2 separate regions of the Homo sapiens genome follow, and region 1 is linked to region 2. The links come from fine-mapping of genetic effects on gene expression. A gene starts in region 2. The other region holds a variant in brackets. All regions are shown on one strand. Distances are from middle to middle. Region 1 holds the start of THSD7B (thrombospondin type 1 domain containing 7B). Region 2 holds the start of DARS1-AS1 (DARS1 antisense RNA 1).

The links.
Region 1: its variant is fine-mapped to the expression of DARS1-AS1 in thyroid (GTEx, PIP 0.93).

Annotation. Positions count from the first base shown.
Region 1 is chr2:136,763,275-136,768,649 of GRCh38, reverse strand. It overlaps THSD7B (thrombospondin type 1 domain containing 7B), which reads right to left and starts at 3,105. Exons shown (of 28, transcript NM_001316349.2): 1 at 2,963-3,105. RefSeq lists an enhancer at 2,622-3,123. The variant A/G (reference allele first, on the strand shown) is at 2,165.
Region 2 is chr2:135,983,229-135,988,540 of GRCh38, reverse strand. DARS1-AS1 (DARS1 antisense RNA 1) reads right to left here and starts at 3,365. Exons shown (of 4, transcript NR_110199.1): 1 at 3,025-3,365. It overlaps DARS1 (aspartyl-tRNA synthetase 1), which reads left to right and starts at 2,915. Exons shown (of 16, transcript NM_001349.4): 1 at 2,915-3,138; 2 at 5,087-5,144. The coding sequence starts at 3,073. RefSeq lists an enhancer at 3,069-3,168 and a silencer at 3,219-3,278.

The sequences.
Region 1 (5,375 bases), 780 kb before region 2:
CCTTAATAGTGCTATTCTTTTTTTCCCATCAACTAATATAGTTGTCACTACTTAGAATTCTTTAATCTGTTTGTCTTAATCATGTATTTAATATATTGTATCATTTGTCATTTTCACAGTTAACTAAATAAGACCAGTCAAATATTCTTCATCATTCTATTCAAACTTTTGACATAATGTTATTACTTTAATGCCTAATCTTTGTAAAGTGTGCAGAACAGCAGAATTGAAGTTTTGGCAAGACTTTTTTTCTTTAAAGGAATCATACAACTCCAGTTTCAATTTGTGAAGTATAATTAAAGTGAGTTGACATGCTTTAGAATTGTTCTTGTTTGGACATTCTCCCTCCTTTAACTTAGAGCCTATCTTTTTATTCTGCTTTTTCGGTCTATCATTTAAGGACAACATTCTTTTTGCTGATATTAACAAAAGAGTTATTCCTTCAGAAATAGGATCTGTAGCAAGCAGACAAGGTCCTTCATAGCCCTTCTGATGAAGTACAATTTAGTACCATTTTCCTTTCATTCCTTCCCTACTTTCTCTCAAAAGGCACACTCAGCAGAGAACAGAAAGGTACCTCTCGTTACCAATTTGTTAATGTCAGTCTTCAAACAGTAGAGTCTGTATTTACATTGTTTATATGATCGGTAATTATTTTCTACCTGTCTAACAGTGTTCCTCTTTCTTAGCCTTTCAACTCTCTAACAATCAACAACTTTGATGGAAAACAATGGGCCAGAAGATTAAGAAATATTGTAAGATCATTTCTCAAGTATTGATTTAAATATTAAGGTTGACATAAAGTGAGCTCATCGTATTATGAACCCTCAAAACAGACTATCAAAGTCCACCAACAGTAGACAGCCCTTTCCTGGACCACGTATCTCCAAGCCCTTATCACAGATTAATCTAGAATATCCAAAACCCTGAATGGTTTGTAGGTGTTCAGGGCTGCTGGATCTGTCTGTGCTGATTTATACGAGACTATCCGATGTTTTTAAAGTCAACAATGACACCTACAATTTTTTCAGAAGTATCTGTGTATATTGTTACAGTGTCAGAAGAATTTTCTTCATAATTTTTTTCACTTAAATTTGCATGAAAAAGAGTTTCTAACCCTCAACTCTCAGCAGGTAGATGAAGAAAACACACACACACAAATACACACAACACACACACACACACACACACACTTCCCAGGGATAGAAAATAAAACAATTCCAGGGAATCTACCAGATTAGATCAACTACCCTCAGAAAACAGAGAACTGGCCACATTACTTTTCAAAAGAAGACTCCTATTATTAATGGCACTAAGGTTTAAAAACAGCAGTCTGTCAAAGTGAAGCCTCAAGACAGAAACTTTATAAACAGCTTTTAACCCACAAAGACACGAGCTTTCACTCACCACTGAGTAAGACTTCTTGATTTGGTTAGTAACACCCTAAGTGGCTTTCAGGAAGCCTTCACCAACTGCTGAGTAGACAGTCAAGAGCACAAAAAGGCTTCCCTGGAGATTACCTCCTCCTAGTTACTCGAGAAACTCAGATTGCCCTGACACTGCCAGACAAATAACTGTATCCCTTTGACATCCAAAGATTACCTGTCAAAAGGAAACTCCAAACACACACGTTCACACGCACGCGCATGTATACACACACACACAAACACACACACACCCCACCACAGTCTGGTTGGCATGAGCCCTACCTGCATGGGTTACCATTTCCATGATAACAGAGCACTCACAGGTGTACCGCTGAGAAACACCAGGCAGACCGTCATTTAAAGAGCTCCAAGGAGTCTGAGGGTGGGAAACTGCCGGCTTTCAGCAGACCACCCTGGCAATGAACAGAGCGCCAAGGAACCCTGGTATCTTCCGTAGAATATGCCACGGTCCCATAATCTTAGTGGAACTTCACCTTGACTGTACAGTATTGAATCGCAATACCTCTTATGGGAAGCTCTGAGCTCAGACATTCCAAAAGAAAAAAGTACCACCTTCGCCAACGAAAGTTTTTTTCTTGTCTTTAAAAAGGGATAGAGTGAGAGAGCTTAACGCCCCCTCCTCAACATTCCCTCGTCCCCTGCAAAGTTTTCCAACTTCAAAATACGCGGTCACCAAAGAGCGGGGTTCATTTGCTTATTCAAATAACTTTAATACT[A/G]TGGGACATGTAAGACAGCAAAGGGGACAGGTGCAGATGGGCGATGCAGTAGAAAATATGCCTGTCCCCCCCTCCCTGCCCCTCACTCTCAAGCCCCGTTCCCAGTTTCCTCTCCACAAACAGCAGGATATCACGTCCGAGCCCAGCTTGCCCCTAGCCACTCGCAGGGACAGGGGAAATGTAAACTGTTGCTACAGCCTCCTGACACTCCACCGATAAATCAGAGGAAGCTGCAAAACTTCTTGGCTTGCTCAGCTATCCTCCACTGGCACTGAACGCCTATGCACAGATTTCGCAGTCAGCGCTACGGGAAAGGAAACCCTCAGTCAACCTGTTTGCAAAGCCTGCAGAACAACTCCCGGCCTTTCGATTTTGGGCGCCGAGGCTCTCCGCGCAGGACGGGAAACCCCCGGTTTCCTTCATCAGTATCCCTCAAACCAAGCTGGAGGTGAAGGGAACAGAGCTCCTGCTGCCCGGGTCCCAAGGTTCGGTCCCGTTGCATGAGGTCGGTGCTCAGGTCGCCGCGTGGGGCGTCCCCGCCCGCCTAGAGGGTCTCCGCACACTGCGCCCCGGGCAGCCCACGCTTCCCGCAGCCCCAAGCCAGAGGCGTCCGAGAAGATCCGCTTCCAAGTTCCCGCGTCTGGCTGGGAGAAGGGGCGACGATGGCTGTCCGGCGAGGAAAGAGCAAAGTCTGCGCCGGCAGCGCGCCCCCTTCCCCGGCGCTGCCACCCCGCGCCCCAGTCGGCCGGCCAGGGGGCCCGGCATCCCCGACTCGGGGCTCCGCGTGCTTGCACTCACCCGTCTCGCCAGAGCCGCCGCCGTAACCTCTGGGAGCCGCTGAGCCCCGAGCTTCCCGAGCGCAAGAAAGATGGTGGTGTGTGTCGGAAGACCACCCATTCCAGCGTCTGGCAACCCGGCGGCGACTCTGGCTCCTCAGCACTGAAGGAGGAGGAGGAGGAAGAGAAGGAGGAGGAGGAAGAGAAGGAGGAGGAGGAGGAGGAGGAAGGAACGGCGCAGTCAGACGCCATCTGCTGTACACCTCTGCGCAGCCATTGGCTGCCTGGTGCGTCCGAGAGCCGCGGGGCGCGGGGCCGCGGGGAGCCACCTTGCGCCTCGCCTACCCCGGCAGCTGTTCCCCACCGCCCCCTCTTTCTCCCCCCTCTCCTCCGCCTCCTACCGCCTCTGCCGCGCACCCGCACGACCCTCGGCTCAGCCTGCTCCCCAAGGCGAGCGACCGCGGGCGCGCTGGCCTGGACCTCAGTTCCTCTGCTCCCCGCAACTGTTTGCCGCAACTTTGAAGCTTCGGGGTGCCGGTGCGGGCTGGGTAAGGGGACTCCCCAGCTGAGCTCAGCCCGGAGTACCCAAGCCACTGAGCCCAGGAGAGGGTCGAGCGCTTTGCGCCTCGGAGGTCCATGAAGTGATGGGGGAAGAGAGCAAGAAAGAGTGGGGGTGCCCTAGGCCCCTGTTGATAACGCGCCCCAACACGCACACATGCGCGACACTCCGACACACAGTAAAACACACACACCGAGCCATCCCGCAAGGTCCGGATGGTCTGGCGTTCCTCTGCAGTCCCCGGGCACGAGAGGGCTTCGGTGTTACTAGGAGAAAAGACAAAGAAAATCCTATCTGGGGAGTACCCCTAGCAGCATACGTGGGGGAGAGAGAAAGGGAAACATTGTGGTGACTCCGGGAAACGCCGGGAGCTGGGTGCATACCTGCCTGGACATCCCCCCTGTTGCGGGGCTCCCAGCGACTGTCAGCCCACGCCCACCAGAGCCTGGGAAAACCCCTAGCTCTGGGGCCTCTGTTTAAAGGATTTGCAGTCCCGGGGCGCGGGGACCGGAGTTGCGGGAAGGAGCGCCTTAGGCTCCTGGGTAGCTCATGCCGGAAGCAGCAAAGGAGGTGGAGAGTCCGAGTCAGCCCAGGTGAGGCAGGAGTGCAGACAGCGGAGAGCACGTGGGCAGTCGAGGAGCAGAGTCACAGCTCAGAAAGTCGTTTGCTTACTCTCTGACACTTGTTCCAAACCCTTCTGGTTTTTGACACCTTTGATCTAGGGAACTTCTTAAGCTTGTTCAGAGAGATGAAGTTGCTTCAAAAGGGAGAAGGGGCGGGGGGAAGCATGAGGACTACCTATTGCCAATTACAGGATATTTTGCCTGTCAAATCTCTTTAAATGTGTGAGCCCAGCGACAGCAGGGATTGTATCTTTTCTATTTTATCCAATGCCTGGCACACCATGGGTGCTTAAAATGAAGCAAAATAATAATGATAAAATTAAAGCTTGATGTCATAGAGCAAATTAGATTCAAGAGATAAATAGAGAAGCTAGGATCTGTCACAGATAAAAAGAAATCAAAAGAATGTAAGTGCCATTGTAAAGAAAGATGTGAATATATTGGTAAGGGGCTTCAACTCAGCTTGCTGTGGGATGATGGGTTCTGAAAGCAGGGAAGCCTTACTTAATATTTTAAACAGCAATCGCTATTCTCCCACTACAGTCACATTCTGGGTTATGCTTTTTTTTTTTCCTGACATCACTGTCTTAAAAATAAATCAGCTGCCAACCAGATCCCAGAATATTTTCTTAAATCCAAGACCATGATTTATTACTCTCAAGAGATAAAAGGCCAATCCTGTGACCCAGGGGAGAGAGAAACTGGTCCATTATGTTTTATTGTAATCTCAATATATACAGATCAATAGCCAATGAGTCTCATTTAAGTAACTTCAGGAACAACAGCCAAAGAAAAACATTTCTGTTTTCTTGAACTATTATACCCAGGCTTCCCAGGTTTCAGTTTTCCCAGAATCAATGCTGCATTTTCAGGCCACACCCCCTGCACACACACCCCCATATGGGAGAAAGACTTGTGTTTGCAATCTGTCTGGAAAAAAAGATATCAAGGATGACTTCTGAGTATGGCATGTATGGACATCTTAGTAGTTATTTGTCCCCCTCCCTCACCAGAGACAATGATACGTATATTTTCCTTTAGGCTGGCAATTTGCTTTCAACGTGCATTCTGATTTAATATGCCAGCCCATTCTCATTAACCCTTTGCTCTACGTCAGCAATCACTTACGATACCCAAGAATACTTTGATTCTTAAGACACAACTTTTCTCCTCTGAGGCATTGTTTGTGTTTGGTCTCCTGGTTTTTGAATCTAGGATATGAGATTATAGTCATATGGTAATTCTGTTGGGCT
Region 2 (5,312 bases):
ACAGTGAAAACAAGAATAAGCCCCCAGCCTGGACAACATGGTGAATCCCCATCTCTACAAAAAATACAAAAATTAGCTGAGCATGGTGGTGCACACCCGTAGTCTCAGCTACTCCAAAGGCTGAGGTGGGAGGACCCCTTGAGCCCGGGAGGTCGGGGCTGCAATGAGCCTTGATCGCACCACTGCATTCCAACCTGGGCAACGGAGTGGGACCCTGCCTCAAAAAAAAAAAAAAAAAAAGGCCAGGTGCGGTGGTTCACTACTGTAATCCCAGCACTTTGAGAGGCTAAGGCAGGCGGATCACCTGAGGTCAGGAGTTTGAGACCAGCCTGGCCAACATGGTGAAACCATGCCTACTAAAAATACAAAAATTAGCCAGGCATGGTGGCGGGCACCTGTAATCCCAGCTACTCGGGAGGCTGAGGCAGGAGAATCACTTGAACTTGGGAGGTGGAGGTTGCAGTGAGCCAAGATCATGACACTTCACACCAGCCTGGGAGACAAAGGGACACTCTGTCTCAAAAAAAAAAAAAATTAAATTAAAAAAAAGAGAGAGAGAAAGAAGAATAAGCCAAAGTTGCCAGCTCCCTGTGATTCTTGTCCCATTAAGGACATCACTGAAACAAAAGGCACCAAATGACTGCAACATGAGTAGTGGGACACTCTGTTGCTTAACAGCCACTTCTAGACTCCAGTTAAGCAGTAAGATATTATATACATTTTTGTATTCTGCATTTCCCTTGAGGGAAGGGGGCAAGAAGTCCCACACCTCATCAGAATCTAGGAGGTAGTAAGAAACCATCCCATAACAGCCTCTCAGGGAGACAGGGAAGTGAGTGGGAGATGGCCTTCCACCCTCTCATGTTCCAGCAGGATCACAAGATGTTTTTCCAAGATTCAGGTTAGCTGCAGTTCCCGCCCTTGCCTACATGGCTTATGTGGATCCTGCAAAGCAGCCAGAGCACCATAGCAGAGCTGTTCCCCTATTCTTTGGTCTGTGGAATAGGCTACCATACCGGATAAAGCTAAGAGGAAATCTCTAAAAGTCACTTTCCCAGCCCCCAACTAGGATAGGAAATCATAAACAATAACATGTCCCCAAGGGGAATAGTGGAGATCAGTGCAACCCTTAAAGACGTAATGGTTGGTAGTCTCCATCACATTCCTATTGTCACCGGTGTGGCTCCAGCAAAAACCAGACAAATTCAGGAACTTGACAGTAGACTACTGCAAGTTCAACCAAGTCACAGCCTCAGTTGCAGCTGTGGTATCTTTACTACAGCAGATTCTTAAGACCTCAGGCATATGACATGTGGCCACTGATCTGGCAAATGCTTCTTTTCTATCACTATCAGGAAAGGAGGCCAGAAACAAGAATATATATTTACAGTCTTATTCCAGGACTAAATAAGAATACTTTTATCAAGGCAACGGGGCCAAAGTAAGAAAGAAGTACATGGACAGGCCTCATGGACAGATGGAAAGGTAAGATCGCTACCCTAGCAAAGGGATAATAGATGGGATTTGTATTCAGATTTCTGATAACCAGTCCATACATTAGGACTATACCTGATTGAGGCAATCCAAGTTTTAAAAAAAATTCCAAGATGAAGCAACTTCACAGACCCCCTTCTGTATTCGAATCCCATGAGTATAATGGGATGCCTTTTTTAACGGAATGTGATACTGATCATGAATATTCAGTGTTGCTCCCCAAGGAATGAGTAAATTCTCCTGCCCCCATGAACTCAGGAATGACGATGTGACTTGTTCTCGCCAATAAACTAGGAGAATGTGAAATGTGTCACTTCCAGGCAGCCATTTTAAGAGCTAAATTCTCTTCCTGACTCTGTAATAATGGAAGCATGTATCAAGATGGCGCATCTATCAGCCTAGGTACCTGTGTAATATTAAGAACAGGAACTAGGACTTATCTTTTTATTGCCAGCACCTGATAGAATGCCTGGCACAAAGTAGATGTTTGTAAATAATCTTTGATCAATTAAATAGGGAATAAAATTTCATACCACCTGCAATTAGAAGGAAAGCTACAGGCAAGCAAGGACCATGGCTGTCTTCTCACTACTCCATGGGGGAGCCTCCAGAGAGAGCCTTTCACTTGCGCTGGGATCTATGTGCACCCCTTAACACTTTGTGCCAGACTAAGACACTACCAAGTCAGTTGAAACGACGGAGTGCAAACTCTGGCAGGGGAAACAGTATTAAACCAAATCTCCAAATTATTTTCAATTTCGATTCAAAACTCATGAATGATAGCTTTTTTAAAAAATCAGTTTTTTAAAAAAGCCTAACTTGGGGATATTCGCCCATTGGGCAACCAACACTATGCACTGTCCCTAACACTGCAACAGATCCAGGCAATCAATGCAATTGTATGCGTTTCTTGTTGTCGTTGCCACTGTATTTACACCTCACTTACACAGGGACTGGTAACCCATGCTGCCTTGGCAAGCCAACTGCACTCCTCTGTCCCAACAAGCAGGGCAATGGATTGCGAAGAGGCCTCCTCCGTCCCCAAGCAGCTACGTCGCCCAGGGGAAGAGAGAAGGCGGGAAAGTCCAAGAGAGGAGAAACCAAGGCCCGCGCTTAGGTGGGTGTTTTAGTGACGAGTCTGCGGTTACAGCCGAGCGGAGTTGAAAGGGCTGTTAGAAGAATGGAGCAGAAGTCGCAGTTGGGACGAAGCTGAAGAGAGCTGGCATTCGCCCAGGTCTACAGCCAGCCACCTGGTAACCCCTGCCCCCGCCCCCAGAGCCAATCCAGCGAAACTACCGCGAATTCCCGGGAATTCCCTCCAACTCCGGGAAAACTCCCGGAGGGGCGGGGCAAGAGTGGGAGGAGACCCTGCGCGCGGCCGCCAGCGCTCCGGGATCTCGAGATAGCCGCAGCTCTCGCGATCTTTCTGGAGCCGCACCTCCACGCGGAGTCCGAGCGCGTGTGCTGAGACCCCAGGGTCGGGAGGGCGGAGACTGGGAGGGAGGGAGAAGCCCCTTTGGCCTGCCTTACGGAAGCCTGCGAGGGAGGGTGGTGTCCACTGCCCAGTTCCGTGTCCCGATGCCCAGCGCCAGCGCCAGCCGCAAGAGTCAGGAGAAGCCGCGGGAGATCATGGACGCGGCGGAAGTGGGTTTCCTCCTTTCCTGGGCCTGGGAGGACAGACCCCTGGGCCGGGCTGCGCCGAGGGAGGGAGGAGGGGGAGTGGGGCCCTACAGGTCCTTGTCGGCACGTTCTCCGCAGGCTGCGGGCGTGGGGTCCGGGCGCCTAGAGCCCTTGCCCCAGCAGTGGGGCCAGACCCTCTCCGGACCGCGTTTCTTGCGGGGGTCACCTGGGAGTTTGGCCTACTAGAAGCGTGTCCCCGGGGTGGGGAGGACGGGAAGAACCAGCCGCCCCGGAAGTAGGAGCGCGGCGTCACACTTGAGTCTCTCTGGGTTAGGCACGTCCTGCACGTAATGCACAATCCCTGGGAAAATTTTAATAAGCACTAGTAATCGATATGTACTCAGCCCTCGTGTTCCTAATGCTTTAGCAAGTAATGACAGTACTTAGCAAAACCATCTGCCAATATGTTTAATGACCATTTCCCATGTGACAGCTTTAAAGAACACATGTCATTTTTATTTACTTTCTCCCTCTCAGTGACCCGGTAAGGTAGGTAATAGGAGTTACCGAGAATGCATTTGAGGTGAAGTGACCCCAAATCACGTGGATAATTCATAACACCCAGTGATCCTTCGGTGCTTTTCAGAAATCAAAGTTTGAAACCATCCTACAAGTTATGTGTGCTGTAGTACTGTTAAGCCTTAATTTCCGTCTGGCTCCCTAATTTTTCTATAAGGAGTTCTGAGTTTGTGGTAAGCAACATGAGAAGTAAGGTCATCTTAGAATACTAAATGAGGAAGAGTCACTGAAATATTAATAGTACTAATTATGAATGCAACTTTTTTGTCCTTCACACAATTTAATCTCCTTCTGTTGCCCTCAGGCTTCATTGTGTGACTGTATCTCTCTACTCTGGCCAGGGTTATCTTTTTCTTTAAATTGTTCAGTAAGCGCCTTAAACATGTCTGGTTTTATTTTGGTGTAAACACAAAATCCAGCACCCTCCTGCTCTAAAGGAGAGGATTCCAACAGGTAGCTGTAAAGTGACAGAAACTTAATTGTTTCATACAGATCTTAAGTTACCTTGTAAAAACTAGGGCAATTATTTTTGTGTACTCTTAATCTGCTTAATTACATAAACTATCAGTGTACCCTTACAGATAGTATAGGTCTAGATACAAGGTAGACATTGTGGCAGAGTTATGCCATTTTATAGCTAGAAGAATCTTAGATCATTTTAGAGGTAAAGTAAGATTGAAATAAAGGCCACTTATCTATTTAATAAGTATATTTTGTTAACAGATTGGACCCTAGGTCTTCTGTTTCCTGTTCCTAACTCTAATCTGTAACAAGAAATTTGATATTATTATATTGTCAGTGTCAAACTCCTGTAACCTGGTATCCTGAATCTGGTTTTTAGAAACAGGAAGCTGGTGAATTTTTTGATGATGTTTTACAAAAGGAAAGTTGTAGTTAGCTTATACCCAGCATCTCCAGTTTCTAAAAACTGTGGACATCTGGTGCTCAGAAAGCTTACCCAAAACGTTGGTTCTCTTTGAACATTTCTTCCTGTAATAGGAAGTTAATAAAACTGTGGTACTTCATCCTACTCCCTTCACAGAGGAAATTTATGTCCCTGCTTTGAAGTAGTTTCATCTTTTTGAAGAAGGTAGTTAAGATGTGTTGTACATATGTGTAAATTTTATCTGAGAATGTTATTAAGTATGGTAAATCCATCTAGGAGTGGTGATCTTCAAAACAAACTAACCAGAAACAGTACTTTTCTGTTTTCTGTAGAGTACATATGTAAATGAATGAGAGATTTCCACATTATGAAACTACTGACTTTCTGAATTAATAAAATGATCCTGAAAGTTAAATTCATTTTTATATTCTATTATTAGTATTTATGTGTTTACTGTGCTCTTAGTGTTTACATAAAAAGTCACGATGCAAAAAACTTTTTTTGTAGGATTATGCTAAAGAGAGATATGGAATATCTTCAATGATACAATCACAAGAAAAACCAGGTTAGTAGCTATGTGACAGTAAATAAAGCTTTTTTGCTTTCTAATTCCAGGAAAGCTCTAAATGAAATTTTAAGTAAGGTTGGCATAAATCTGAAGGTATAATTCTGAAAAGCTTAAATGACATTAATAATCCAAGTAGATGTCATAACCCTGTGTAAACATTGTCAG